Homo sapiens: one gene and its partners. The protein of the gene in region 4 interacts with the protein of the main gene of each other region in a biochemical or structural test. Each region holds a gene or a part of one and is shown on either strand. Other genes may lie near its edges.

Region 1 (7,454 bases), on a different chromosome or scaffold from region 4:
CCTTGAAGCCATGCTAGGAAGGCTTCAGGAGAATGGGGACACTGTGCTAGGCAGTCAGCTGAGCTGATCCATTGTTTGTTTTATCAGCATTAAACCAGACACAAACACTGATTCCCAACTTGGGGGTTATGCAGATTTTCTACTAAGGCTATTAAACAGATCTCAGGGGGAAGTTCTCCAGCTCTGATTATAACATAGAATTGGAATTTTAAAGTGCAAAGTTCTTTTTATGTAGCTTGCACTCCTAGCTTCACACTGACAGAAGAAGATGAGGGAAGCTGAGAAGGAAAGTGGGTGAGGGGAGAGGCCTTCAAGAGGCAGCATAGCATAGACTCCAGGGCCAGGCTGCCTGGACTTGCCCCTGTGAGCTGTGTGACTTGGAGCAAGTTGCTTCAGTTTGCTTATTTATGAAATGAACATAATAATAGTACCTACCTCACAGGGTTGCTATGAGGATTACATGAACTAACAAATACAAAGTATTTAGAACTCTAAGTGAGTTGATATATGTAAAGTTCATAGCTCACAGTAAGTGCCACACATATGTTTTCAATTCTTATTATTAATTATTGTTATTGCTGTTAGGCCAGATGGATGGACTTTTAAAGGAGCAGAGATCCTAACATTGTAATATCCTAACCTGACTATTTGGAACCTGAAGACCCTATGCTTTTATATCCAGCCCAAAACTCAATGCTTTTCCTCATCCTGACAACTTCATGACCTAATATTTTCTGTTTATTTAACTGGTTCACCTGCTAATGAAGACCCTGGATGCAAAGGACTGGATCTCTCTTACGGCATAATCAAGGCTACTAGTGGCCATACGGGTAGCAGCCAGAGTGTGGGCTCTGAGCCTCCATGTGCCCCCAGTATGCCAACAGTAACAGCACAGGAGAGTTACCTTGCGGACACTGAGACAGGGCCGTGGTGATGCCATACAGCCGGGTCTGCTTGTGGGGTTGGAAAGCATCCGTCTCCTTGGAAATTGCAAGATCGAGAGCAACCACGGAATTCCTACAAAGCACCAAAGGGCAGAAGGTGAAAACACATCTGATGGCTTGAACTTGTATCTAAACAAGGCAGCCTCTTTGTCATTTTGAGGATAAACTGGAGGCCATAAACAGACATGATGGCCTTCTTCCTAGACATCCCTTCCTTCCCCTGGGGTGGGTCAAGCCTGCATTTCTCTGGCTTTTTACAAAAGGGTAAAGACCAGTTAGCTCTCCCCTCCCACTCTAGATCCCAGGCAGGAAATGAGCTTTCTAGACAGATGCCCCTGGCCAGTTGTCTTCTCAGTTTAATCCCTCCTTTTGCAGGAAGGGGTAGTCAGGAAGAGGCCGTGGGAATATTGCAGTTTAACAACTATAATGAAGCAGGGACATGAAGTGGACATGGAGCCCACCGGCCACGTGACCCTGGGCCAACTCCTGGGGAAAGAACAGACGTGCTGAGGAAGTCCAGGTTTAAAGACTTGAAACCACACAGTCAGGAGCATCTGGATGATAAATGGCACCTCCTGTCCCCTAGGGCCTTGTCCTCCCTCCTTCTTCATGCTCCTCTCTTGGCTCCTGACAACCAGAAGGATAAGGGAGAGGGGACATCTCTAGAGGGGGCATTTCTGGAGGCTCAAAAGTCAAGCCAAGAGGCCAGATGGGAAGGGCCTGGCCTCCCAGAGACAGTGGGTGGAGGGGCAGGCCCACGCAGCCCCCATGGCTACAGCTGACGTACATCTTCCAGTCTGTGAAATACAGATTCTTCCCGTAGCTCGTCACAGCAAAAGGATACTGGAGCCCTTCGAGAGCCTTGCGTCTGCTGGGCTGACTGGGGTTCAGGCATTCCGCCCGATTGGTGCCTGTGTGGAGTGGAAACAATTCATTCATTGTTCACACAAGAAATGGCCCCTTTGTGCAAAAAAAACAAGAGTAATGAGGGCAAGAGTGGGAGAAATTAAGCATTACAATGACAAGTCCCAGAGAACACATGAGGCTTGCTCTTAAAAACTGGCAAGTTGTCTCTTCCTCCCGTGTTGCTTCTGCTGGGGAGGCACGAGCCAGGGCAGACTAATGTAAGTTGTGAATTGCTTATCGGTATCAGGGTGACTCCAGGCTCTGTGCAGTGCCACTTACAACACGAGGGTGGCCAACTTTTTCTTAAAGCACCAGATAGTAAATTATTTCAGGTTTTGCAGGCCAGGAGGCAAAACCAAGGACAGTATGCAGGTATCTATACAATTTTGTACCAGTATATATTTAATGTACCAGATAAAACCGTAAAAACCATTCATAGCTTCTGGGTTATATAAAAACAGGTGGCTGGTTAGATTTGACCCCAGGGCCCTAGTTTGCCCACCCCTGACTTAGGAGATTGAGACCCGCCCTGGACAGTGTCCAGCTTTCCATCACCTGCATCCACCCAGCAGAGCTGAGATGAGAACGCATCGAAGGTCAGTCCATTGGGCAAGCCCAGGTCATCCTGCACAAGGATCCTCCGGTTCGTGCCGTCCATGTAGGAAGTTTCAATCTTGGGGTTATCTCTGTTCCAGTCTGTCCAGTAAAGGTTCCTGGAGGAGGAAAAAGGGGGGAAAGAGGAAAAGAAATAATAAGGATGCATGAGAAAAAGTTTATGAAAAACACTTGAAAAGAATTACAATGAAGTGATTGGCAGACATGAAAACAGAATGACTGAAAGGATCGAGAGGTGATAAAACACATTTTCTTTTGCAAAGATACTTGAATTTGGTTCCTCATTTGAGTTTGGTGATTCTGTTACTAACAAATTTGGTTCCCTTTAACATAACTGACATATAATATCTCAATGAAGCTGTTAGCAAAAGAAAACAAAGTAAAGGGCTATAACTGGCATAAATATATGGAATTCCCTGCATGAGGCCCACATGGAGGAGAGCACAGCAGACCCAGGGGACCAGACTAGGACAAGAAGCAGATGTTGGCAGGGGCTGTGGTCAAAGTACCTGCCTTCAAGGAGGAGGCTGAGTGGCCACAGAATAGGAGATGTGGTCTCAAAGGGAAGGAATCAGTGTCGAGGAACTAAGAGCCTGTTGTGTAAGAGGTAGAGCTTGCAGTAAGAAGGAAGAGAAAGCATGGATGTGCCGAAGAAACACACAGGAAGGGATCTCCAGGGTGTTCAGTCTGGGTCTGCCCCTGAAAGCAGCCTCAGCAGTCCATTTATGCCGCCCTGCTACTCTTCTGGAGTTGATATAACCTGAGTGTTGATCCACATTGAAGCCATATGGAAAATATCCAATTTCTGAGCATGCCAACTTGTAAAGTCTCCTGGCAAAAGATTTGAAAGTGGGACATGGTATCAAGTCCACACTGTAATACATGTTCTGGCATTGTACCGTGGATATCTACAAGTCACCAAAACTGTAGACTCTTTCGTCCCGTACTCATTAATTTCAGGAGACCAATGCTGGAGTTAAAGCCTCACATCTGAGAATCTCTAAAAGGGCAGATGCAAATCAAAGAGATGCACACACATATTTACACAAAGATACCCTCTCACGGAATCCGTTACAATGCCTCTGGGATTCACCAAGTCAGTCTCAAAGAGCACCCGGCGCTGCGTGCCGTCCAGCTTCGCCACTTCTATTCGATCCAGGTTAGAGTCTGTCCAGAAGATGTTGCGGCCAAGGTGATCAACAGCGATACCTTCTGGACTTCCAAGATCTAGAAGTAAACACAGAGCTCCTCTAATTTTTTTTGTTTTCTAAGCAGCTGAGATGAGGTTTTTCTGAATACTCAATGTTATTTCACATGGTGTCCAATCCCTGCACTTTAAGAAACCAAATGGGAATGTGAAATGCTTGTTGTTTATAAGATAAACAACACTCAAAGTGACAAATTCAAAAATGCCATTTACTCACTCTGTGGGTATCCATCATGCTGCACGTTGGGAACCAGGACAGTAACAATGACTAAGCCGAGGCCCAGTTTTCCATGAGCCCACAGCCAACCACAGTTGAGACTGAGTTCCAGGTCCTATGGGAGCCTGGAGGAGGAACCCCAGCCTGGGGAGAACAGGGAGGGGTTCCTGGGGGAGGTGACATTGCTTGAAGCTGGCACCTGAAGGACCAATAGCAGTTTGTCAAACAAGGATCCTGGATGAGGGCTTTTTAGGTAGCGAGACTGGCACATAGGTATAAAGGAAGGCTGGATGGTGGCTTAAAGTGAACAGGATGTCATTGTATGTGGCTGGAGACTATGAGGGTGGGGGAGTGGTCAGAGATGAAGGTAGGAGGCCATGTTAATGAACTTAGAACTTAGGCAGAGGGGAGGCAGTGGAAGATCTTAAGATAGGGAATGGAAAAATAGTTCTATCTTGTTCATTAGCTATCGGGGATAAAGGTCATTGAAATAATACTTTCAAGAAACCATAGCTGCTATTACTTTCATACAAGTATAAGGGGTACAAAGAAGGGGTGTCAGTGATTACAAATAACACCCCAGTCTTTACTGGGTTATAGCAACTGATTTTCAAGCCAGGAGTTGCCACTGGGTAACATGAACCTTCACTGCAAACCCTCAGCACCCATCTAACTTTACTGGAAGCTGAAGATTACATTGGTGTTTTATTATATAGTTTTTTTAAATTAATAATAACGATTGTGTTTTATTGATATCACTTAGGACTCTTTCCCTTCTACTGATTAAAGGAATGAAGGTCATTTAGTATGACTGGAGTATAAGCAGGAAGGAGAAGGGGCTACCCTACCTGAGGGATCTGGGGTATGAGGCAACCATTCCAATACTGTGGGTTTTTTTGTTTTGTTTTGTTTTTGACAGAGTCTCATTCTGTTGCTCAGGCTGGAGTGCAGTGGTGCCATCTCAGCTCACTGCAAACCTCCACCTCCTGAGTTCAAATGATTCTTTTGCCTCAGCCTCCCGAGTAGCTGGGATTACAGGTGCGTGCCACCATGCCCGGCTAATTTTTGTATTTTTAGTAGAGACAGGGTTTCACCATGTTGGCCAGGCTGGTCTCAAACTCCTGACCTCAAGTGATCCCCCGCCTTGGCCTCCCAAAGTGTTGGGATTACAGGCATGAGCCACCACACCTGGCTCCAATACTGTGTTCTTCTGTGGACATACAAGCAGTGCAGACCCTCAGCCCCCTTTGCATTAGCCTTCGCCAGAGCCCTAATATGATGGTGACCTTGGATGCTGGACACATCAGAGCCCCCAGAAAGAAAGCCCGCCAGAGGAAGTTTATTGAGAATTAGAAACCCCACTTGAACAAGATCTTTATTATCTAAACACAAAGTAGAGATTTTTAAAATATTAAAATATTTCCCATGTCCCTAGATGAACAGGGACAGTGAGACTGACCTCCAAAGGTCCCTTCTGGCTTTCAGATAGAAACAGAATAAGTCATTCTGGAGTATATTTGGAATGAGCACATCCTGTGTGAGAGACAAGAGCCACTCAGATATACGCAAATAAAACAGAGAATATAGGCTGCTCTGTGAGAGCATCTTTGCGAGGCACCTGGAGGAAGCTCCATGAGCTCCGTGCATATTGTCTCCTTAGAACCAGCCTTGGTCCCGATCTCAAACCCAAGAGCAACCAACCCCCTCTCCCTCAACTCAAAATACTTCTTTATGAGCTACTCTTCCAAGGGAAAGGTCTGGATAATCTTATCCTTCAATGTGCAGTCCGAGGAAGAAGTATTCCTTACTGCTTACCTCAAAGATATGATACTTTTTAGAGATACTTGGTTGGGTCTGTAACTCAAGGAAAGAAAGAAAGCCTGGGATCCGGGCTGTTATGAAATAAGGAAGAAATGAAAATGATACCTAACTGTCACTCTCACTCACTAGGGAAGCACCAACCTGTACCATGCTAAGGAGATAACTGGAAGCTTCTTTCTCTCTTAAAAAAAAAAAAAAGAAAATTATTCCCAGTGATCTTTCTTCTACAAAGATCACATTTTGGTTTAATTCTGTGTTTTCACAGTAACTAGGCTTTTGCTTGGAATGCTTCTTACTGTGCTTACAGCGTTCTTGGATGGTTATGAGCTCCAAAAGCAACAGGAAATAGCAAACAATGACCTATTCCCCTCTTCCACTGGGTTTTAAAATGAAATCATAGATAATAACAATAACATTTTTAACACACGGAGATAGGCATTTTCAAACTGTTTTTCACTAAACCAAAGCATGAAAACTGGAAGACATGATTTAAATAGCCTGTTGGCTTCCAGAAAAGGGTTCAGGGTCTATGTCCAAAGCCAGACATAGTTAATTCAACCTCAGCTTCATTCCTGCCGCATCATCTTTACTGAAGGCAACAAAGAAGGGAAAAAATGCTTCGGGAGTTGTTCCACAGGCACAGGAAATCTTCTAGAATATCAATTGTGAGGGAAACATTCCATTGAAAATAGAAAAAACTACATTCAGTGCCAAGTAAAAAGAAATACAAAATGAGGCTGCTCTATTTTAAAGATGTATCTTTGATGTGAATATTTTGCAGAGAACGCAAGGTGACTCCACAGAACAAATATCATCAGCATGACAATGCCATAGGAGCAAAAATATTCCCAAGTCAGTTGATGAGTCGCTGAATTAAGCAACATGTAATACTTGACCATTTCAGCACAGTGGAATTTTTAGAGGCCTTTGGATTTTTGTTGTAATGGTCTTTCAACTAGATAAATCATACCCATGTAAAACAGTCTTGATTTGTTGAAGGTAGGCATGAAAAACAAAGCACAGAGTCATTGGTTGAAATTGGCATCCTTAATGAGGAATTTCCTCAATTGAGGAATTGAGGTTGAACACTGAAAAGTAGATTGTGCCTGCCGGGCGCCGTGGCTCACACCTGTAATCCCAGCACTTTGGGAGGCCGAGGTGGGCGGATCACGAGGTCAGGAGATAGAGACCATTCTGGCTAACACGGTGAAACCCTGTCTCTACTAAAAAAAAATACAAAAAATTAGCCAGGCATGGTGGCGGGCGACTTTAGTCCCAGCTACTCGAGAGGCTGAGGCAGGAGAATGGCGTGAACCCAGGAGGCAGAGCTTGCAGTGAGCCAAGATCACGCCACTGCACTCCAGCCTGGGTGACAGAGTGAGACTCTGTCTCAAAAAAAAAAAGAAAAAAAAAAGTAGAACGTGCCTAAACTTTACACACTTTATCGTAGTAATGCAACAAAAGACTGAGAAATGTTTGTGAAAGTTTGGCTTCATTTGCTGTTCTTCTCTGGCATACATGGCCACTTTGGCTGCTAGAAGCAAAACCAAAAAGGAAAAATGATATTTGCTTACTTACCTTGTCTAATGATGGTGGTTGGCTCTCCACCATGTAGACTAGCTCTCCCAATGGAAGGCTCAGTGATGTCCGTCCAGTAAACCATCTTGTCCACGCAGTCAAAGGCCAGTCCAATGATGACTTTAGCCTGGATGTGAAGACCAGTGGTTAGAATGGTCCATCTACA
Region 2 (7,454 bases), on a different chromosome or scaffold from region 4:
TTCCTAACAGCTGAACTAGCTGGCACCGGTGCACTACTGTCAACTTTTTCAATGTTCTGAACATTATTGGCAAGCACTTTCACCTTCCATCCCACCTGTCCAGACACCCTGGTGGGTATAACCACCTCCCTCCTGCAGATGAGCAGGCAGTCGCCCAGGCAGCCACAGAGGGCGCAGGACTGCGGGAGCCCAGACCCCAGAGCTGCCCTTCCCACCGCGCCGTATCTACGCCTGGAAGACCAGGTTTGCAGACTCGGAGCGCATGCTGTACCTTTGCAGCTATTGTCCTCTGTGAGCTCATAGCCAGTCCCGCAGCTGCTGTCCCGCTGGCAGCGGAAAGAGCCCACTGTGTTGATGCAGGATTCTCCAAGCCGGCAGCTGTGGCTGCCCGTGATGCATTCATTGACATCTAGGAGAGACCGAGGCAGTGCGGGGGTGACCAGCAAGAACGACCCATCCTAATACATCCTAGAAAGGAATGTGCCAAAGCCACGGTGGAAGTGCTTCCCTGCACCCTCGCAAACTGAGCTCAGGTCCACCATGTGCACATCCGGGCTGTGGACTGCACGGAGTCGAAAGCAGTGATTTCTCTCCCCTGCTAACGTTCATATCTACTGCTTTTTCTGAGACTGTAGTTATGTGGTCCTCAAGAACCCCACGGAGGGGCAGCATCTTCTCCATCTCCCCCATCTCACAGACGCGGGGGCCAGGAGAGGCTGAAGGATGTGCCCAAGGCCACTCAGCAGATCCTGGATCCGGAACCTGGTTAGACCCCAACTCCATCCTCTTTCCCAACCCCAGTGCTTATATTGTCTTGGAGGGAAGTCTCGGCAGGGGCCTCTGCGCTGCAAACTCCAGCGAACACGAGAAAGCGCGTCCTGGGCTGCTCTCCACCCCTGAATGGGGTCTGGGTTGTAGAAGGCAGGCCCTGGTCAGTCCTCCAGCACAGAGCTCCCAAGCACAGTGACCGGCCAGTCCTGCTGGCACCTGGGATAGGGACATTACCTTCACAGGAGACACCATCAGACAGCAGCTGGTAGCCCACGAAGCAGGAGCAGACCACCTCGTCACCCGTGTCTCGGCACTGCTGCTTGCAGGGCCCGCCTCCTGGAAGCACAGCGTGCATGAGCCAGGGATGGACGCACCCAGGCACCGCCTGGTTTCTAGCTCCGTTCAGGCTGGGTCATAGAAAACGCCCTCTGGGCAGACGAACCCAGGAAGGCAGGCTGACCTGGCTGGAGCCCACCTGCTGCCCTACTGGGAGACCCCCAGGCTCTGGCTCTGGACACCCCCCAGGGGCTGCTGCTTCAGGTCCCAACCTCCCCGTCTGGAAAATCAGGTGGTGTGCAGGGTGCCCTTTGTAGGCTGGGGTGGACCTGGAAGGGGCGAAGCAGAGAAGAGCTCACTGCCGGTCACAGACATGGGGGTGTGGGCTCCACGTGGAAGGCCAGGCCCCAACTAGGCCTCATGTACCTGCTCCTCACTGAACTCTCGAGCTGTCCCACTGCTCCAAGCCCACTACCATGGCCTCAGTTCCTGCAGCTGCCCACCTGGCTGTGGCCACAGCCTCCTACCTGGTCTTTCTGCATAGCCCAGAAGCACCCCACAACCTGTTCTTCCTACAGGGTGGCCAGAGTGATGCTCAGAGTGCAAATCTCATCAGGATAAGCCTCAACCAGGGAAAGATTCTACGAGATACACTTCTAACTGCTGCCAGCCTGCCTGCTTCTAGGGCCCCTCTCTCTGGCCCTGTAACCCCACCTCCTTCCCCAGCCCACTGCCTCCCAGTACCCTGCTACAGTGGGTCCGTGCCCTTTACAAGGCTTCAGGTCTCCCTGAGGACCGTTTCAGGGTTATTTTCCCAGCTAATCCCACCTCCTCCTTGCAGACCAGCTCTCCCCTCCCCAGAAAGCTCCTCCCATAGCCCTGAGGCTTGCTGGGGCTCTAGGTCACTCCCTTCCTCCCTCCACCAGGCCCCTGGACAGCGCCCCTGGACCAACTGTCACTGTACACTGACTGCATCATTTAAGAATTAAACTGGCCCCTAATTAACACCCTAACCACAGGGGGAACCACTGAAAGAGCTTGTGAGGCAGATCTGCAGGTCTAGACATGCCAGAATGTTCCATGAAAGAAAAGCAGTTTTATCATATGAAAAACAAACCTGCGAGGCCCTTAGTTAAATGTGCAGACATCTCCCTGTGAGGCAAATGAATATCACCAATGGTGACAGAACCGTGGCTGGGGCTCCAGGGGCACAAAGGCAGGGAACGCTGAGCCCCCTCCTCTCCCCTGAGAGCCTGAGGGAGGCCTCTGTCACCTTCACAAGGCCTGGGGGCTCGGTAACGTGCAGGCTTTCCACACCAGCTCTGGCCCTGGGCCTGGGCCACCCTCCCCAGCAGGGCCTCACCAGGGCCCCTCCTTGGTAAGCCCACCCTTCCCCTCCCCAGCCAGCCCTAGATCTGGAAGGGGAAAGGGAAGGAGGAGCTGGGAGTCCACGACTCCTCAGGGTGGAAGTGGCTCATGGCTGGCTCCCAGCCAAAGGGTACTTTGCAGGGTAAACCAAAGCAAAACCTGGATTCCAACTTCCAGTGAGATCAGCACCGAGATTCCTTGGTTTTGCTTTTTGTTTGTTTGTTTTTTTGTTTTTGAGACGGGGTCCAGCTCTGTTGCCCAGGCTAGAGTGCAAAGGTGCAGTCATAGCTCACTGCAGCCACAACCTCCTGGGCTCAAGGAATCCTCCTGCCTTGGCTTCCCAAAGTACTAGGATTACAGGCCTGAGCCACCTTGCTGGCCCCTTGGGGTTTGTTTAAATACCAACTGATGGGAGACGCCCGAGTCTCACCTCGGCAGCGGTCATTCAGATATGGGTCCTCTTGTTCCTCCTCAACCTCAATGATCTTATCTAAGGGGGAAAAAGACCAAGTCAGACATTTATCCAAACACCCATCTTATCTTAAAAGAAACTCCCAACATTCTCTCTTCTTGTCACTATCAGGCAGTAATGCCCATTTGAACATCTTATATAAACAGCTAAGTATTAACTTTATCCTCTTTAAGCTAGAATTACACTTGAAAATGTATAATTGATATCTGATCAATTATAGGCCAGGCGTGGTGGCGGGCACCTGTAATCCCAGCACTTTGGGAGGCCGAGGCAGGCGGATCACCTGAGGTCAGGAGTTCAAGACCATCCTGGCCAACACGGTGAAATGCTGTCTCTACTAAAAATACAAAAATTAGCCAGGTGTAGCGGCATGCACCTGTAATCTCAGGTACTCAGGAAGTTGAGGCAGGATAATCGCTTGAACTCAGGAGTCGGAGGTTGCAGTGAGTCAAGATCACACCATTGCACTCCAGCCTGGGCAACAAGAGCGAGACTCCGTTTCAAAAAAAAAAGATCAGTTATAACAGAAAGACCACAGACACAAAGGCCTGTAATCATTGACTTCATGCTGGGTGATATTCCCATAGTCCAAATTACTTGACCATCTCAGCAAATGCAGTCACAGCCTTGCTAACAACCAACACACGCCCTCCAAGTCTAAAGCAATGCACGCAGTAAAAACTTGAGTCTCCTGATTGATTCTATCAAATGCTATTATGTGTTTGAAAAGGGTTATTCTCCATTTCTGTACTTATTTGTCGCAGGCCAGCACTGGTCTGGGGACCTTCTGCATGGCCCCCAGGAAACATACAGTGGGTCCATGGCACTGGTAGCAGTGGGAGGAAGGTGCGGCTGTGAAGACAGGAAGCCCTCCCAGAGGAGGGAGCATGCGAGGATAGTCTGGGGCAAGGACTGAAGCAGATAAAAGACGGAGAGATAAAACATCTAACATCTGGAGCTGCAGAAAAGCCCAGAGACTGCTCACGCTGCAGACATAAATCAGTGAAAATCCACCCCCGAGATGCAGGAGAAATCCTCCACCAGCAGGAATGGTTTGGGTTTGTTTAAAGTGAAAATGTCGTCTCTGATTTCAAAAGCCAAGGAATGAGGCAGAATGCGGCCCCAATCCCTCTTGATGACTGTAACATCTGAAATCATCTCAGTGGCATCCATGGGGCCCTGGACTTGAAAAACTAAGAACAATAAGTGAAAGATGAGTCCCGGGTGACCCGGGTCCTCTGTGACCAGGGGCCCTACAGCCTGGACTTGAAAACCTAAGAACAAGAAGTGAAAGGTTCCGTGTCACCCAGGACCCTACAGCCATTACCTTGACTTAGAGACTACAGGTCTGAGGGTTCTTCCCTTTCGCCCCTTCCGGCACCTCCCCACCTCTTTATTTATTTTATTATTTTTTTTGAGACTGAGTCTCGTTCTGTCACCCAGGCTGGAATGCAATGGCGCCATCTCGGCTCACTGCAACCTCCGCCTCCCAGGTTCAAGCGATTCTCCCTGCCTCAGCCTCCCAAGTAGCTGGGATTACAGGCGCCCGCCACCACGCCCAGCTAATTTTTGTATTTTTAGTAGAGACAGGGTTTCCCCATGTTGGCCAGGCTAGTCTCGAACTCCTGACCTCAGGTGATCCGCCTGCCTCGGCCTCCCAAAGTGCTGGGATTACAGGCGTGAGCCACCGTGCCCAGCTCACACCTCTTTTATTTTTTAAGAGAGTGGGGGCAAAGCTCAGAGAGAGGAGGGAACAGGCCGAAAACTACACAGCAAGCTTGGCCCAGGCGGAGTCCTGCCTTCTTCCAGGTTAATTCTGTTACAGCACAAGAAACCGTGGCCTAAGTGTAAGAGGCTACTGGACAGCCACAAAGTCTCCTGAACCCTGTAACTGAACCACACAGAAATGCAGGGCGAGGACACAGAACGGGGGGGCACACAGCTGAGAGCGCTCTTGAAGCTGCTCTTGGGGTCACATGCCCCTTTGCTGAGTAAGTGTCTATGATTTGACAGAGCATAGCCAGCTATTAGCCAGCGATGGCCCCCAGCTGCTCGCCCATACATCGTCAGCTCCAGATGGAGAGGGCACTGGCCAGGAGGTGGAAGGCCAGGCTCTCCCTCCTCCACGTGTCGGCTGTGCGATCTTCAGCATCAGACCCTCACCCAAGAAGTGGGAGCAAGGCCAGCCACCCATGCTGCCCCGGGCAGCTGAAGGGACAAGGGCAGATGGTGAGGGCAGACATTTATGGGGCCAGGTGCTCTACCCAACCCTTGACACCCAATCTCGCACTCCATCCTCCCAGCACCTGATGAAGTAGGACTGCAACTATCCCCACTTCCCAGATGAGGGGACCAAGGTACACATTAGGACCCGGATGGGAGCACAGATTTGTCCGATCCCAGACTCCAAGCACTCAGCGTCACTCCAGGACAGCGGCTTTCAGATAAGGTCACAAACATGAATGGCTCCGACAACCGGAGTTAGTCCGTGCTGAGTTAAGGCAATGGTGACACGGATGCACGTGTTACCTGTAATGGTTCATCGTAAGTGTCAATTGGGCTGGGGTATGGTACTCAAATATTTAGTCAAACACTAGCCTGGATGTTGCTGTGAAGCTATATTTTAGAGATTAATATTGGCCAGGCACGATGGCTCACACCTGTAATCCTAGCACTTTGGGAAGCTGAGGCAGGTGGATTACCTGAGGTCAGGAGTTCCAGATCAGCCTGGCCAACATGGTGAAACCCCATCCCTACTAAAAATACAAAAATTAGCCAGGTGTGGTAGTGTACACCTGTAATCCCAGCTACTCGGGAGGCTGAGGCACAAGAATCACTTGAACCCGGGAGGCGGAGGTTGCCGTGAGCCAAGATCACACCACTGCACTGCACTCCAGCCTGGGTGACAGAGAGAGATTCTGTCTCAAAAAAAAAAAGAGATTAACATGTAAGTCTGTTGATGCTGAGAAAAGCAGATCATCTTCATACCATGGGTGGGCCTCACTCAATCAGCAGAAGGCCTTCAGAGAAAAAAGACTGGCCTCCCCGGGAAAGGCGGCGTTCTGCCAGCACACTGCCTTTGAACTCCAGCTGCAATGCCCCTCCTTCCCTGGGGCTCCAGCCTGAAGGCCTGCCCTGCAGATTTTGGACTTGCCAGCCCCACGATCACATGAGCCAAGTCCTTAAAATCTCTCTCTCTCCACTCTCGCTCTATATACACATCCCGGAGAACCTTAATACACTGCTCATTAGGGAAGGAAGGGGGAAAGTTACCCGTTTCTTGGAGGCCCCCGACATCCAAATCTCCGGTCTCCTGGCTCTTGACACAGCATGCCTGGAAGACCTGTCCACACTGGTAGCCAACCATGAGGCTGTACTCGCAGCTCTGGCCCTGGGCCTGGGCCGCCCTCCCCAGCAGACAGCAATGGCAGCACCTCTGCAAACACAGGTGGAGATCCCAGATGGAGGAGCGGGCAGACAGCCCAGCGGGGTCCACGAGAGGCCTCAGGGGAGGCCTCTCTGAGCCCCCTGTCCACACAACCTGTAGAGTGATGACTCAAGTCTGGCTTAGATACCACTTCTAAATGTCAGCAACAAATAGCAAAGCAAGGCCATCCCCCTACTCCAAATCATCTAGGTCCCAGTTTTGAAAGGAAGCTTAAAGGGCCTGGCATCCACCTCCCCTCCCCACCCCAACATGCAATTGCACCCCTCAACATCCCTGCCCCGCCCAGAGACCACCCGGCTCTGCTCGCACACATCCAGGAAGAGGGAGCTTCTTATAGCACCATGCACCAGCTCCAAAGTTCTGTTCCTTTTGCATGGTCTGAGATTTCTCTACCATGCCCGGAAAAATGACACACATGCATGCTGCCTCTCCGTTTTTGAGTTAGAGGGGTTCTGGCAGCAGGAATTGCACCGTGCATTTGAAAGCACAGGAACTTCAAGACGAGTCATCAAGCAAGGTCAAAGGACAGGGTGGCTGTCTGCCACCTGGGCCCAGGTCCCAATAGTTACTTCCAAGTCCCTGTGGCCTCACACCTGAGTCCCAGAAGCAACATTTGCCCTGACACACGAAAAGCCCTGCTTCAGTCTTTATTAAGTGGTTATCCTAAGAGGAGCACAGAACTTTCTAAACAGTCCCCAGCAGGAGCCAGGAGGTGTAGCTTTGCCTCAGTTATGTGGCACTGATGGGTCTTCCAGGCTGCTTATTCTACGCCCTCCGCTGCCAGAAAGTGTAGGGAGCATCAGTCACCTCATCCATCTTTTGGGGTGTGAGTAATCCTTCCTGGAAACACAAGTCGCTCATCTGCCAGAGAGATCTGTTCCCACTCCTGCTAGAATGTTCTGTGCTTTTTCCACACCTCTCAAGTCTGGGGACATGGGCACAGCTGTGTGCCGGACCGACGGCATCTGCAAGGCCCAGCCCTGCATTGGGTGTTGGGTGGGAGGGTGCGGGGGCAGTCATGAAACGCCCAAAGTCCTGGTTCCCAGGCACCCCCACCATCACCCCACCCAGCTCTCTCCTGGGCCAGAGCCCTGCCCTGTGAAAGCCCACACAGGCCAA
Region 3 (7,454 bases), on a different chromosome or scaffold from region 4:
TTTCTCTCGGTTTTCTTATGGAGTATAGACGAGTTTGGATGTGTTACAATAAGAATGATAATCTGTCTTTGAAATGTTCACAGTTGTTTAGAAGTTGAGGACGATTTGTGATTGTTACAGGACCTTTAGTGAGAATATTTCAAAGTCACTTTTTACCACTTTGTTACAACAAAATGTAGAGGATGTCTGGTGCCCTTGTATCTTCTCCCATCTCTGGTGAACTGTATTGTTTTGTAATTTGCAGTGGCCTGACCAGGAACTACTGCAGGAATCCAGATGCTGAGATTAGTCCTTGGTGTTATACCATGGATCCCAATGTCAGATGGGAGTACTGCAACCTGACACAATGTCCAGTGACAGAATCAAGTGTCCTTGCGACGTCCACGGCTGTTTCTGAACAAGGTAAGAAGTCTCTGGCCAGACAACCACACCCTTGGACGTTGGGATAAAAAGAGTTGCAAAATCTTAGTGATACAGAAGCCTTCCATGCTGCACGGGAATCTGAATGTGGACTCAGGGTCAGCCAATGGGAAGGAAGCCTCAGCGCCTTCTCTGGGGGAACCAGGGCTGAGATTTTTGGCACCCCGTGACAGGGTGGTGTCTTTAGGAAGCGTGCAGACCTTCTAGGGCACTGGATTTACCACTCCCCTGGTTATTCAATAGATTATTTCAGTGTCCTAGTGAAAATGGATATTCTAACATCCTGCCAAATTTGTGATGATTTACCAAGCTCATCATGAGCCTTTCCTGGTATTTCTTCAAGTAGACAGTACTCATTGCAAACTTCAGCTTTACAGTTTCAGAGGAATGTGGTTTTTGAGTCTGTCATCCTTGAGAAACCTGATATGACTTTACTTAGTTCCATATCCTCCTGGGTCTAGGTAACAGTACATAGCCAGCAAATGCTCTATCTCCCTGTCTACCTTAATCTTAGGCAGGTGCTGCACACCTAGGCTTTGATGGAAGGGATTTCTTAGTGTTCTTGCCCCTCCTTCTCATGGAACACGTATCTGTGTTGCTGTTTGTGAAGAAGAGTAGTGGATGTCTACTTTGTTGCAATGCAGGATCCTGGGCCCAAGATTTCCCGCCGTCCCTCCAAGGGAATAAAATTTTGGCCAGTACCCCTCTCTGAGAGACAATGTGTCTTTGCCTGGAAGTCCTAGATGGAGGACCACTTCCTGCCCCATCTTCCAGAAACTTAAGGCTTTGGCTTTGGAGGATCAGTGCTCTGGAGAAATGTGTGACGGTTTCATGTCTGCCCCCACTGACAACCACCACCTACAGCCTGCACCGCCTGATGCATGGCACTCTGGTCTCCTGCCTTGTTCTCAGGAACACCCAAAAGAGATCTTTGCCAAAGAACAGGCACATGAGTGCAATTTTGACTGATAGGCACTCTGATCTGTCCTTTGGTGCCCAGGTTTTAAAGAAAATCTTTCTAAAAACTCATTGAAGTTCCAGAATGCTATGAATCTTTGAGCTTTGTTATTGGCATGTCCATCTGCCTACTAATGTAGAACAGAGCATGGTCGTCATTTTCAGAGATGATGTCCTGTTTCTATCATGGATTTTTTTTCTCATGCTTCTGTGTTCTGGAAATTACTCAGTTTGTTTTCTCCTCTTTGAATTTCAGCACCAACGGAGCAAAGCCCCACAGTCCAGGACTGCTACCATGGTGATGGACAGAGTTATCGAGGCTCATTCTCCACCACTGTTACAGGAAGGACATGTCAGTCTTGGTCCTCTATGACACCACACTGGCATCAGAGAACCACAGAATACTACCCAAATGGGTATGTCTTTGAGTTTTCTCCCAAGAGAAACAGCCACCCACTTAAATTTCTCCTGGAAGAGCCATGCTTCCAGCTAACTTCTTATGACCCAATTTCTCTCAGACCCAGAATGTTGGACAGAATGTCTCAGGCTTCTTGCTTTGGGCACAGGGTCTGAGAGGAGAGAAATGTCAGGCCAGCTCTCTTTTCTCATAGTTGATAGAAGTAGGAGGATACTTGGAGGTGGTGAGGTCTCATGAATAGAAAGCTCAGAAGAACATATGACCATGTGCTTAGAAATAGCACCATTCCACAATGCCCACTAAAGACCAGTGAAATAGTTCAACCAGGGAATTCTGTCATTCTAATCTCCAAGCCCTGGAGTGAAGGTTGTGTTTGCCATGTTTGTCTTGGGTAACAAGTGAAGGATATCTATATTGACTTCGAGATCTTCCGATCACTTTCTCCTCTAACCTGTATAAACACATTGGGTTCTGAGAACAAGGTGTCTGAAAAGCTATGTGTTGCCAGCCCATGAGGGGCAAAAGGAGGAAGGCAGCTGAGAGTCAGGAAGTATAGAGATGCTGAAGAGTTACACATTCAGGAAGATGGACAGAAACCCATGTCTGGCTATGCCAGCCTTTCTGCCATGAAGGACTATCAAATACATGAGAAAACAGTTTTCACAGGTTGGACAACAGATATGGTAGGCTTGAGAGAACTGAGAAAGGGAATCAAAGGAGATCAACTTCATCATTAACCTGTCTTCCTTCCTGGACACAGTGTTGGATTGAAGGACAAGCAGATGGAGCCCAGCTGACCACAGCAGTCTTGCTTAACTGAGGAGAGAGACTGGAGTCTGCGATGCCTCAGGCAGCTGATGTGTTCTAGGCTGGCTAAGAATGAGAAGGGATTTGTGGAAGAAAGGAGCTCCAGGAATACACACAGAAGTCTCCTCAAGGCTTTGGCTAAATACAAAGCTGCGTATGCACAGGGAGAGTTTTCATAAAGAAAGAACAACAAAGAAAAGCTACTTGGGAAAGAACAACTGCAGGGGAACAGTAAGCTCAATGGAGATGCCAGAGCTCACATAGCACTGGGGGATATTTGAATTCTGACCACTCAGAGGAGAAACACCTCACTACATTTTGGGCATTCAGTAGAGACCAAAGAAAGCTGTATTTTGGGATTGGGATCATCTTATTCCTAGAATCAAGGTGACTCCAGAAAAACTCCAACAACCCTTCTTCCAAGCCAGTCTAAAAGGATCCAAATGATCTCCAAGTAAATTAACTGCATTCCACAAGAAAAAAAAAACTCAACCCCCCTTAGAGGCAAGGGACAAATACAAGTTGCTCAGTTATATGGCATTCCTATTGCGTTACTTCTATTTAAAAATTTAATAGAGACACAAGAAGCTTTCACTGTGATACATAACTGGGAGAAAAAATCACTCAACACAAACAGGCCCAGAAATTATAGAATTGATGACATTGGTGAGAACATTTAAAATGCACCTCTGAGAACTGTGTTTCAGGAAAATGTCAGCAAAAGCTGACCATGAGAGAAACAAAAGCAGAATAGCAAGAGAAAAGAAAAGAACCGGAGAGCCAAATGAAAATTAAAGAACTGAGAAAAGGTACATCTCTAATGAAGAACTCACTGGATGGCCTTATCATCACTTTAGACATTACGGTAGGAAAGGTGACCTAGAAAATAATTCAATAGGAGCTACACAAATCACAGGACAGACAGACAGACCAACAGACAGAAACACACACACACACACACACACACACACACACACACACACACACACACAAAGACTGAACCTATTAATCAACAGAGCCTCAAGGGCATCTAGGAAAAATCCACACATTTAATATATGTGTTAGGCAAGTCACAGAAGGAGAAGAAAAAGATATCATGACAGACATTATACTTGAAGCGATGATGGCTCGCAACACGCCAAATATACAGAAAACAAGAAACTCATAGTCAAGAAGCTAAATGACTCAGGTATAGAATTTTAAAGAGCAAAACTCTATGATTTACTGGGATATATCATAGTTAAGTTGCCTCAATTCAAAGCTAAAAAGAAAAAAAGGGGGTTCCTATGAACAACAGCTTTGACAGCTGTTGATCTAAGACCACAGCTTAAATATCTAGGCAAGGAAAAGCAAATAAGGCACAAGGAAAGAGGATGGAAGGAAATAGTCCAAACCAATGACATTCAGTGGAAAAGAAAATAGACCAACAAAGGAGTAAATCCATGAAACAGAAAGTTAGGTTCTTTGAAAAGTCTATATGATTGGCCAAAGTCTGGCTAAACAGATGACAGACCAAGGAGGGAGCATATCCATCACCATCATGAGTAACAGGAGAGAGATGCCATTGCTATAGCATCCTCCAGGTGTGAAAGCTGAGAAGTAGATATTGAGATCAACTGTATGTAAATAAATTCATGAATGTAGATCATGTGGATGGATTGCTTAGGTAAATAACAAATCAGCAAATCAAACACTGAATAGATCATGCAGTTTTATAGAGACTTACAGACAGCCTGACAGATAAACATTTGTATGTACGTGAAACAATCTCCAAGACACACTTCAAAATCCCTCTCGGTTAATCCAAAGGAATGTATTTGGCAGAAGGTAGAAGGAGGGTATTCTGATCCTTTCTGGTACACATTGATGTTTTCTCTCAGTTTTCTTATAAAGCATAGATTACTTTGAATGTGTTACAATAAGAATCATAAGCTGTCTTTGAAATGTTGACAGTTGTTTAGAAGTTGAGGACCATTTGTGAGTGTTATGGGACTTTAGTGAGAATATTTCAAATTTGCTTGTTTACACTTTGTTACAAGAAAACATAGAGGGTGCCAGGTGGTGCTGTATCTTCTCCAATCTCTGGTGACCTGTATTGTTTTGGAATTTGCAGTGGCCTGACCAGGAACTACTGCAGGAATCCAGATGCTGAGATTCGCCCTTGGTGTTATACCATGGATCCCAGTGTCAGATGGGAGTACTGCAACCTGACGCAATGTCCAGTGATGGAATCAACTCTCCTCACAACTCCCACGGTGGTCCCAGTTCCAAGCACAGAGCTTCCTTCTGAAGAAGGTAAGAAGCCTGCAGTCAGACAACCATACCCTCGGACATTGGGATAAAAAGATTTGCAAAATCTTTGTGATGCAGAAAACTTCCATGCTGCACAGGAAGTCGAAGGTGAAGTCATGGACAGCCAATGGGAAGGAAGCTTCAGTGCCTTCTCTGGGGGGACCAGAGCTGGGATGTTGAGTGCCTTGTGAGGGATGGTGTCTTTAAAAGGGGCACAGACCCTCTAGGACACTGGATTTATCACTTCCCTGTTATCAAACGAATCATATTAGTGTCCTAGCCAAGATGGATATTCTAACATCCTGCCAAACTTGTGAAGATATACCAAGCTCCTAAGCCTGTCCAGCCCTTTCTTCAAGTAGGCAGTGTTTATTGCAGTCTTCAGCTTTACCATTTTGAAGGAATGCCATTTTTGAGGCTGTTGTTCTTGAGAAACCTAACATGTCTTCATTAGATCCGTATTGTCCTGAGACTTTGAAGCAGTACATAGCCACCAAATTGTTTATCTCCCCAGCCTACCTTCATCTTGGGCATGCCTTCCACACCTAGGATTTGAGGGAAGGGATTTCTCAGTGTTCTCATCCCTGCTTCTCATGGAACATTTATCTCCGTTGTTTTTTGAGAAGAAGAGTAGTGGATGTCAGCTTTCTTGTAATGAGGGATCCTGGGCCCAAGATTCCCTGTCTCCCCTCCTAGGCTATAAAATTTTGGCCTGTACTCCTTCTCCCTGAGAGGCAATGTGTCTTTACCTACAAGTCCTAGATGCAAGATCCTTTTCTGCCCCACACCCCAGAATCTGAAGGCTTTTGCTTTGGAGGAGCAGTGGTCTAGTGTGCAAGGGTTTCATGTATACCCCCCACTAACAGCCAATCACCACCTATAGCCTGAACAGCTTGATGCATGGCACCCTGGTCTCCTGCCTTGTTCTCATGAACACCCAGAAGAGGTGTAAGCAAAAGACCATTCACATGAGTGTAATTTTGAAGTATAGGCACTCTGATCTGTTTTTTGTTTGTTTCTTTGTTTGTTTGTTTTCCAGGGTTGAATTAAAATATTTATGACTACTTATTAAATTTCTAGAATCCTATAAGTCTATTTGTATTTTTATTCTACATTTCAATTTGCATGCTAATATAGAAGAGTGTAAATTGTTAATCCTCAGATTATTCCACTTTGTGTGTCATAATTTTTTTCACATTTCCCTTTTCTAGGCAATACTGAGCTTGATTTTCTCTTTTAATTTCAGCACCAACTGAAAACAGCACTGGGGTCCAGGACTGCTACCGAGGTGATGGACAGAGTTATCGAGGCACACTCTCCACCACTATCACAGGAAGAACATGTCAGTCTTGGTCGTCTATGACACCACATTGGCATCGGAGGATCCCATTATACTATCCAAATGCGTATGTCTATCATGTTAGCCATAAAAGGAACAATAGTCAACTAAAATTTCTCTTAGCTGGCCCATGCTACAAGCTCACTTCCTAGGTCCAAATTTCTCATAGACTCAGAGTTTGTAGCAAAATGTCTCAGGAAACTTACTTTTGAGCAAAAGGTCTGAATGAAGAGAAGTTTTAGGATTGCTATCTTTCATAACAATTTGATGGAAGCAGCAGGATATATGGAGGTGGTGAAGTCTCATTAATGTAAAGCTAAGGAGATCAAATGACCAAATGCTGAGACAAAGTATCATTCCACAATGCCCACTAAAGGTCCATGCAGTCTTTCAACCATGCAATTCTATCATTCTATCCTCCATTCCCTGAAGTGAAATTTGTGTTTGCCATTTTTGACACGAATCAGAAGTAACAAATTCAGGCTGGGTGCAGTGGCTCAGGCCTGTGATCCCAACACTTTGGGAGGACAAGACGGGCAGATCACCAGAGGTCAGGAGTTCAAGACCAGCCTGGCTAACATGGCAAAACCCCATCTCTACGAAAAATTAAAAAATTAGCCGGTCATGGTGGTGGGTACCTGTAATTCCAACTACTTGGGAGGCTGAGGCAGGAGAAACACTTGAGCCTGGGATTCAGAGTTTGCTGTGAGCCGAGAACATGCCACTGCACTCCAGCCTGGGTGACAGAGCAAGACTCAATCTCAAAAAAAAAAAAAAAGAAGAAGAAGAAGAAAAGAAGAAGAGGAAGAAGAAGAAGAGGAAGAAGAAGAAGAAGAAGAAGAGGAAGAGGAAGAGGAGGAGGAGGAGGAGGAGGAAGAAGAAGAAGAAGAAGAAGAAGAAGAAGAAGAAGAAGAAGAAGAAGAAGAAGAAGAAGAAGAAGAAAATAGAAATGAGTGCATATATTTATATATGAGTACTAGCCTGTATGAACACACTGGGTTCTAAGCACCAGTTTTCTGAAGGGATATGGGTTGTCAGGCAGAGTAAAAGCAGGAATGCAGATGAGAGTCAGGAAGTAAACAGATGTGGTGATTAAAATGGGCAGGTACATGGACAAAAAAATGCATGTCTGACAAAAACTGGCCTCTTGCCATAAGTGAGTATGAATAATATGGAAAAACTGTTTGCACATGTTGAACAGCAGACAGTACAACCTGAGAT
Region 4 (7,764 bases):
AAGACCAGAAATTCGAAAGTCATCATCATACTCTCATAGAGATTTAAAATATTACTTACCCCAGAAAAAATATAATTGGGCTATGAAAATTTTACCAACTAAACAAAGGCAGTGGCAAAATACAAATGGAAAGGTGGCACCCACATATCCTAATTTGAAATTTTGGGCCCAGACCAAAGAAAACAAGAAAGAAAGCCTAAACCAAAGGCCCAATATGTTTATGTTTTGAATTTTATTTCCAAAATAAACAAACAAAATAACAGTGATGGTAATGTGGGTCAGTGAAACATTAGCAGACTGCCATGACTACAGGCTTTCTCTGCATGAGAGAGCCACCACTGCAAGAAACATCAGTGCACCCACCAGGTCTGGGTCAGCGTGAAGACAGCCTCCAGCATCAGGGGCTTTTCTTTCTACTTTCTTTTGAGTGGCAGCTGCTTTGGCTGGACGAGCCCGATAGCCACCTCCACTGATGGGCGGTGGGGCAGGCCTCAGGCTGGGAGCCTCTTCTCTCTTCTTGTCAAGGGGTCGATGACCACGGGCACTGAAGAAACCCTACAAGGAATGAGGCAGAAATATAATACAGAGTGTTATAGAAGATTTGGAATGTAACTATTCCAACACCCTCATTTTATAATTTAGGTTATCACAAGCTTGATAATTTGCTTAAGATCCATCAACTGGCTGGTTGGTGATAGTGAATCTGTAGGTTGCTTACTGTTCAGTAACAGTAGAAAGACCAACTGCACAAAAAAGCTATGATGCAGTGTAGTTTTTAAAGAGAGGCCTTAGGATAAAGCTGTATCAGATTATGAATAGTAATGACCTCATATTCCTAAAACATACATTGGAACTTACGAAATTGTAAAGAATCTATACTGTCAAGAAGAATGAATATTCTCAAGCCACTTGGATTGTTAGATTCCTATGATTATTGTTAATCATTTCCCTACTTTCATTTTTGTGAATTGGTGATTAGACTCCTATATAAACATATTTAAGAGACATTAAAGACTTATTAAAGGTTGATTCTACTTGGAATTTATTTGTAATAAGACAATCTTTGACCCTCATAATGTACTCTGGAGCTCGGCTACTTGTAGGTCTTGACCGTAGGGTTGACTTACAGCTATGAGACCTTGGGCAAGTTGCTTTATCTGTGCCCCAGTTTTCTCATCTGTAAAATAAGTGTAATGATAGTTTGAATCTGCCTTACAAGATTATTGTAAGGATTAAATAACTTATTGCATATGGTACCCTCAGAACAGTACTTGGCAATAATAAGTGCTCATTACTATTTTTACTGGAATCACACATAACAAGTACTACAGTTTAAGTGTCCTCTCCACTTCGAATTTCACTTTTAGTCTTATCTTCTATCAACAAAATTATTTGTTAAACCATTATCTTGAAATTTCTTACATGATTTCTTTATCAAACATTATGATTTTCTTATATTTAAAATAATTCTCAAGGCTTGTGCATTGTAATTAAAATTACTTGCTAACTTAAAATATTATATTAAAGGATAATGAAGCAGAAAATACGCATTGCAATAGGAAAGTTTTGATTTGGATTAACTACATTCTCATTTTTTTTTTTGTCAGTAGCTATACATCCTTTGGAGCTTAATTACAAATTAACAAACGACATGATTTGGAACAACTGAGCAACAACTGAGCTCTCTTGCAATTTTGTGAGTCTAGAAGTCATCAGATGAACTCTATTTGGAATTGCATTGTCATTTATTCATTAGATTATAATATTATTTAACATTTAGTAGGATGGTGCTAAGATTAAAACCCAGCCAGGCTGGTTCCAGATTTTCCTGTTTAACCAGTTGACTATATACATTCTTAATATGTAAAGATTCGGAGGATATATACATATTTCACATTGAAGTCATGGTCCTAGTCAGAGCTTACCCTCTCTAAAACAAATTTTAAGAAATGTGATTCATCTGCTTATTACAAATACAATTATAACAGAGAAAACTATTTTCTTTTTATTTCAGAGTGCCACTAGAGAGGTAGCATGGATGGTCTGGCTTTACTAGAGAAAAGGAAATTTTAAAAAATATTTAAAGAAAGTATATACTTAAAGAAAAACACTTAAAGAAATTATGAAGGCCACTTGTTGAATAATCAAAATCCATTTTAAAGCCTAAACTATTAAACTATCTCTGTGAGGTTTAGTTGATAAGCAGAAATGTGAAAGTGCTTTGCAGAGTACTTTACAAAAATTTCGTCTTACACATTCTTTACATTTTTCTTACCTAATATGATTAACCAGACTTAACCAGATTAACCATATGTTTTTACACACACAACCAGATTAACTATATGTTCTTACATGTAGAGTCTGATAAGTACAACACTCAAGTTCCCTTGAAACTCAATAATGATCCGAAATGAATCACTTCATTTAAATATTATTGTGTATTCTTATTTCTAGTTTAATGATACTATGCTATATGTAAGAAATTTGGCCATGATACGTTTGATGATAAAATTTAAATTTCTTAAATATCCATTGTCCTAAATGCATTTCTGTATTTTTAGTAACTGCAAATTAACAGCAATAAGTCAGCAAAAATAATAGTTGAGGACAAACTGTTCTACAAATAAATAAATTAGACTGAACCGTGTTTCATAACTATTAATAATAACAATACACACTAACTCTAATTTGAACTTTTCATCTGAAAAAAGCAATATTTCATTTTCTATCATTACACTTGATGTATTTTGCTTTTAGGCTTAGTTATAATTTTTATAAATAGTAATCTCAGTAACAATATATATTACCTTCCTTCACCAAAGAACAATCTACCTACCACCAGTTTCTTTTATCTTAAAATTCTGCTCTTTTATTATTTTATAGTTTGTGAGATTTTCAGATCTTGTCCTCTTAATTGTAATCCTGTATTGCTAGAAGTAAATGAAAATCACAGTACTCAGAATAGCAAGTGAGAAAAACACATCTTACATTAGCTAAGCCATCCTCATCTTAAGAAAACAAAGGTGATAAACTAGAAAACAAGAAATTACTTTGTTTTTATATAAGAAATACTATGAAACATTCTTTAAATACAATAAGTCAGAGGTTAACAATTCCATTTCATAACTATAAGCAATGCTAATTTCATTAAAATAAGCACATAATATGATTATGTTACATCTTATATTAATAATACTACTAATAATATAATAATGCTTTAAAAAATTCACCTCCTCATTGTCGTTGACACCTTGGGACTTAACTAGAAAAACACACAATAGTAGCAATAATAGATGTTTCATGGTTTTAAGTTTGTGGAAGCTCCAAGAAACCATCCTTTTCATGTAGACTTAACTGAGAGATCTTCAATCCTATATATATCTGAGTCCTCTGCTAGGAATGACTTCAGAAATGGTTACCTTTCCTTAGTTAATATTTAATTTTTGGTTCACTTGTTGGCTGAACCATTTTATCATTTAAGCAACATCTTCCCAGCAAAGCTTATTTACTTGTCATACAACTATTATTCTTTGTTGGTCTAGTTTAGAAACATTAAATTTCTTCAATTCATTTAATTGGACAAAATGATGGGAAGTTAGGGCACTCCTCAAAGAGAGATGTGTATCTTGTTTCTGGTAAATTAATGTGGAAACTACACAAGCTCCGAAAGAATATGTGAGAAAACAAATCTAAGCTTAGTAAATTTGACCTACTCACAAGGCAACCACTAAAATCGTGACTCATTAATGATATACCATAAATGCTTATGTTTTCTGACAATGACATAATTCTATTTCAAAAGGGGCCATTAAAATCAATAGTAATGTTATATCATAATGTGTTTATCTTTTGTTTTAGACATTAATCAAAATAACAAAATAACAAATTCATACCCTATTCTATGAAAAATACACATCAGAAAGACCCTTTTTTTGTGCTGAATAGCTTTAATATTTTGTCCTTAATTCACATAAGGTAAAATGTTCAACAAATTCTAAACATTATTAAGATAACTAATAAATTATAGATTTCTGAATCAAAATTATGATGATGATTAAATACATGTTTAACATTCTATTTTATTGTTATATAGTTTATATCATATGATTTATAAAAACAATGTTATTTTAACACTGGTGAAGTCTTCATACATCTATTTCAATTAGTATGCTCACAGACTAAATGAGGCCCATTTTCCTTCATTTCCCACAAGCCACAAAATTTATCTCTCTTGTCTGTTCACTTGTGTGTTGCAATCAGGATTAATAACTCCTACAAGAATCAATAGGAACACCAGTCAGTAATCCAAATCCCAGTAAGTGCATTGATTCAAAGCATTTTTCTGTTTTTTGTATGGAAAGTGAAACATTCTCATTAAATTTATAAATTATTTTATTAAAAAGATGGCAGGTTATCAGGGTTTGGATCAGCGTATTGAAACAATGCTTTGAAACAGAGTCTTGAGAATGGTGTGGGACCCACGACATTTCTTTCTTCTCCAGGTAGCAGAGATTGCATTCCCAAATTCTTTTAACTCAGATTCCTAGAAACAAATTATTCTCTTGGTAGCATAGGTTGTCCTCCCAAATTCTTTTAACTTAGCTTAATAGAGACAAAGTACTCAGTTTAAATTAAGAAAAAATATTCACTTGAGTCTTTCCAAATTTGTGTTCCCTTTATTAGCAATGAGTAAATATTATATTTTAAGATTTTTTTCTTTAGCTTTAATGGTTTTTAAAGGGATACATGATCTGACAGAAAAAGCAAATATCTATGTGGCTATTAATTAAAATATATACAGGAATATTTTCCATGAAAATATAACTGATAACAAAGTTTATTTTAATAATCTAGACAGGATTTTATTTTAGTGACGTACAGATTCTTACAGATTTAAAAAGAATTATCTGTTAAGAAAACTCTAACCTTTTTTTTTTCTTTTGAGGTAACGTATTACTACATTTTCAATGACTGATGTTTGATCAACTAACAATAGAATCATCATTTAACTTTCAGAAGTCTGTAAATTTGTAAAGTTTTTTCTAGTATATAATAGACTCTTGTTCAACACTAAAGTGAAGGTTCCTTTACTTTCCTACTTTGTTCTACTCTGATTGGCATTCTTCCCATGGTCAGAAGGAGGATGGATTCAATCCAGCATGCATGCACCATAACAGCACAGACTTAACATTCATCTTACAAATAGTTCTTGAGAGTCTCCTCAGTGACGGGTAGTGTGATAGGGGCTGGGAATGCATTGGTGAGCAAGACAGACATAGTAGGCGTTCAATACATAATTACGGGATGAATGAGTGAACTGGCTGTCATTGGTACATGCCTCAGATGCCAAATTATGGTAGTCATTTATCGTATTTAATTCTTGAAACCACTATGTTCTACAGATGGTGAAACAGGTTCAGAGAGGTTAAGTAAACTACCCCAGAGTGTATAGGTAGTAGGTGCTGGTATGAGGACTTGACCCCTGACTGTCTGACTCTACAGTCCACACTCTGTGCCCATTACATTATATTTCCCAACAGGATACAAACATTATAAAAATTTACCTCTACCTTCTTTTTGTGTGTTTGTTCTTTTGGAGTATTTTGGCCAGCCTGTCATCTTGGGACCATAATGTATCAGGCTGACACACTCACTCATAGCTTTTACTTTCACTTATCTTTTTACCCTCATATGTGGGTATAGTATTCATGTCTGTGTGAAGCATGTGCAATGCAGTGATAATGAGTTTTTGTAATTCTAGTTCTTGTTAGATATGTCTTTTTTCTGTAGAGTTATGTACAGTTACACTGGGACTCTAAATTGCCTAATATTACAAAGAATATTATCATGTTTTCAGGGAAGAAATATATTTGCAGAGACACCGCTTATTAAGATGCTTAAATTTTTTTAGAATGTTGATGCCATTGGTGGAGGGGAAAGGGAGTACTATTTGTTCAGTTATTTTGAGGTCATCAGTGCAGTGTTCTTCATATTAGCTGATGTCATTGCATAAGTCAAGGGTAGTAAATCAGTGACAGAGAAAACAGAGATAATCTGTCCTGCCCAGCAGCTCTCTGGCTTGAAGGGCAAAGACTTGCCGATACCCATTGTCAATACACTTGTTGATACTTTTACAACTCATGTCAGGCCCAGTCTCCATAGCACAAGGCAATTTGTGCTTAACAACTATTTACAGAGCATCTACTTCATAGCAGGTAGTTTGCTGGGGGCCGGGGAGACCTTGGCGAAGCCTTAAGTCTAAAAGGAAAGACAGAAAATGAAAACTACTTACAATAATTAGTGTTGAGCCTAAGATTGGGGGAGGTGAGGCTTTGGGACTGGTAACTTAAGGATCTAACTTTCTTCAGGGGGAAACGAACTTCAAAGGAAAAGGGCTTTTAGACTTGAAACTTGGTTTGAATGACTGTACAGTTTATGTCATGCACCTGGCACATAGCCAGTATTTAATAAATATCGGTTGAGCAAATTCATGAATATATAAATGAACGAATGACTAAAAGGAATACTGATTCTCGTTGTCTAAATATGCATAGGTTTTGAGGTACTGTAATAAGTTGTTAGTCTCTGTATATATTTTCCTTGTGTTACCTTGATTAACACTGACGAGTTGGAGGCCAGGCTGGACCAGAGCTCTTGGGGCAAGCCTGAGAGCAGTGCAGTGGTGACACCTGCAATTTGTTGGTCATCTTTAGTGGGAAAGCATATGGTGGGGAAGAAATAGGAGATGACGCCATCTCTTGTGGAATGTCTCCCTCTACTGGCTTAGATGTCAGTTTCCATTTCTTATGGGAGCTGACATAGAGCATGGTAATAAGGGATAATAGGACATTTTCTCCTACAACAGGATGGAGATCACAAGAGCTAAGAAAAGATAGAGATGCTCTTCTGCTTTTGTCACATTGAGACCCACAACCATTAAGGGTGTAATGAACACCTCTGGGAGTGCTGCTCCCTTCTCCTGGAATGACCCCTAAAATGGAGGTATGAAGCTCCAGTGGTCCTGTCAGTACTACAACACCCTGACCCTCTAACCACAGGTGACCAAGCTAGGGGTAGACAGACCCTTTACGCAAGCTAAATCTACCAGATTGTCTCTCCAAATTTGATATTTGCTGGAAGAAGAAGGAGGAGGAGGAGGAGAAGAAGAAGGGGAAGGGGAAGGGGAAGGGGAAGGGAACTGGGTCAATTGGACTGATGTTATATCCATGGCAGCATTTTAGAGGGAAAGCCTACCAACTGCATCAACAGAAGTAACCAAAACGTCCAAACATAATAATTTGATTCTTCACAGCCCAGTCTGTGAGACACCTGATGTCCTTTCTATAGTACTCATTTTACCTTTCATTAACTTTGACTGAGATGATTTTTGGCATTTGTTGAGAAAATTAAGATCAAATTTTTAGGAATCAGACTGGCTGTCTTATTTTTAAGCATAAATTGCAGGTTAGAAAGAGAAGCTTTATATTCAAATAATGTAATCAATCACTAAAAGTTTTCATATATTAAGCATATGGGCTGGGCGCAGTGGCTCACAGCTGTAATTCCAGCACTTTGGGAGGCCAAGGATCACTTGAGCCCAGGAGTTCGAGACCACCTTGGGCAACGTGGTGAAACCCTATCTATACAAAAAATGAAAAAATTATCTGGGCATGGTGGCACACACCTGTAGTCTCAGCCACTCCAGCTACTTGGGAGGCTGAGAGGTGGGAGGATTGCTTGGGCCTGGGAGGTTGAGGCTGCAAT

Evidence for each region.
Region 1: the proteins of FGB (region 4) and NID1 form a complex in vitro, tested with the Homo sapiens proteins (one study listed by BioGRID).
Region 2: the proteins of FGB (region 4) and FBLN1 form a complex in vitro, tested with the Homo sapiens proteins (one study listed by BioGRID).
Region 3: the proteins of FGB (region 4) and LPA form a complex in vitro, tested with the Homo sapiens proteins (one study listed by BioGRID).

What each region holds. Positions count from the first base shown.
Region 1 is NC_000001.11:235,978,091-235,985,544, forward strand, and holds part of NID1 (nidogen-1 precursor), read right to left. Parts: intron 7,416-7,454; coding exon 7,289-7,415; intron 3,693-7,288; coding exon 3,521-3,692; intron 2,564-3,520; coding exon 2,406-2,563; intron 1,856-2,405; coding exon 1,732-1,855; intron 1,018-1,731; coding exon 905-1,017; intron 1-904. UniProt on the Homo sapiens protein: Sulfated glycoprotein widely distributed in basement membranes and tightly associated with laminin. Also binds to collagen IV and perlecan. It probably has a role in cell-extracellular matrix interactions.
Region 2 is NC_000022.11:45,526,716-45,534,169, reverse strand, and holds part of FBLN1 (fibulin-1 isoform D precursor), read right to left. Parts: intron 6,324-7,454; coding exon 6,161-6,323; intron 2,906-6,160; coding exon 2,846-2,905; intron 1,108-2,845; coding exon 1,006-1,107; intron 410-1,005; coding exon 272-409; intron 1-271. UniProt on the Homo sapiens protein: Incorporated into fibronectin-containing matrix fibers. May play a role in cell adhesion and migration along protein fibers within the extracellular matrix (ECM).
Region 3 is NC_000006.12:160,583,892-160,591,345, reverse strand, and holds part of LPA (apolipoprotein(a) precursor), read left to right. Parts: intron 1-244; coding exon 245-402; intron 403-1,633; coding exon 1,634-1,793; intron 1,794-4,715; coding exon 4,716-4,897; intron 4,898-6,140; coding exon 6,141-6,300; intron 6,301-7,454. UniProt on the Homo sapiens protein: Apo(a) is the main constituent of lipoprotein(a) (Lp(a)). It has serine proteinase activity and is able of autoproteolysis. Inhibits tissue-type plasminogen activator 1. Lp(a) may be a ligand for megalin/Gp 330.
Region 4 is NC_000004.12:154,558,599-154,566,362, reverse strand, and holds the start of FGB (fibrinogen beta chain isoform 1 preproprotein), read right to left. Parts: upstream 3,353-7,764; 5' UTR 3,345-3,352; coding exon 3,231-3,344; intron 556-3,230; coding exon 364-555; intron 1-363. UniProt on the Homo sapiens protein: Cleaved by the protease thrombin to yield monomers which, together with fibrinogen alpha (FGA) and fibrinogen gamma (FGG), polymerize to form an insoluble fibrin matrix. Fibrin has a major function in hemostasis as one of the primary components of blood clots.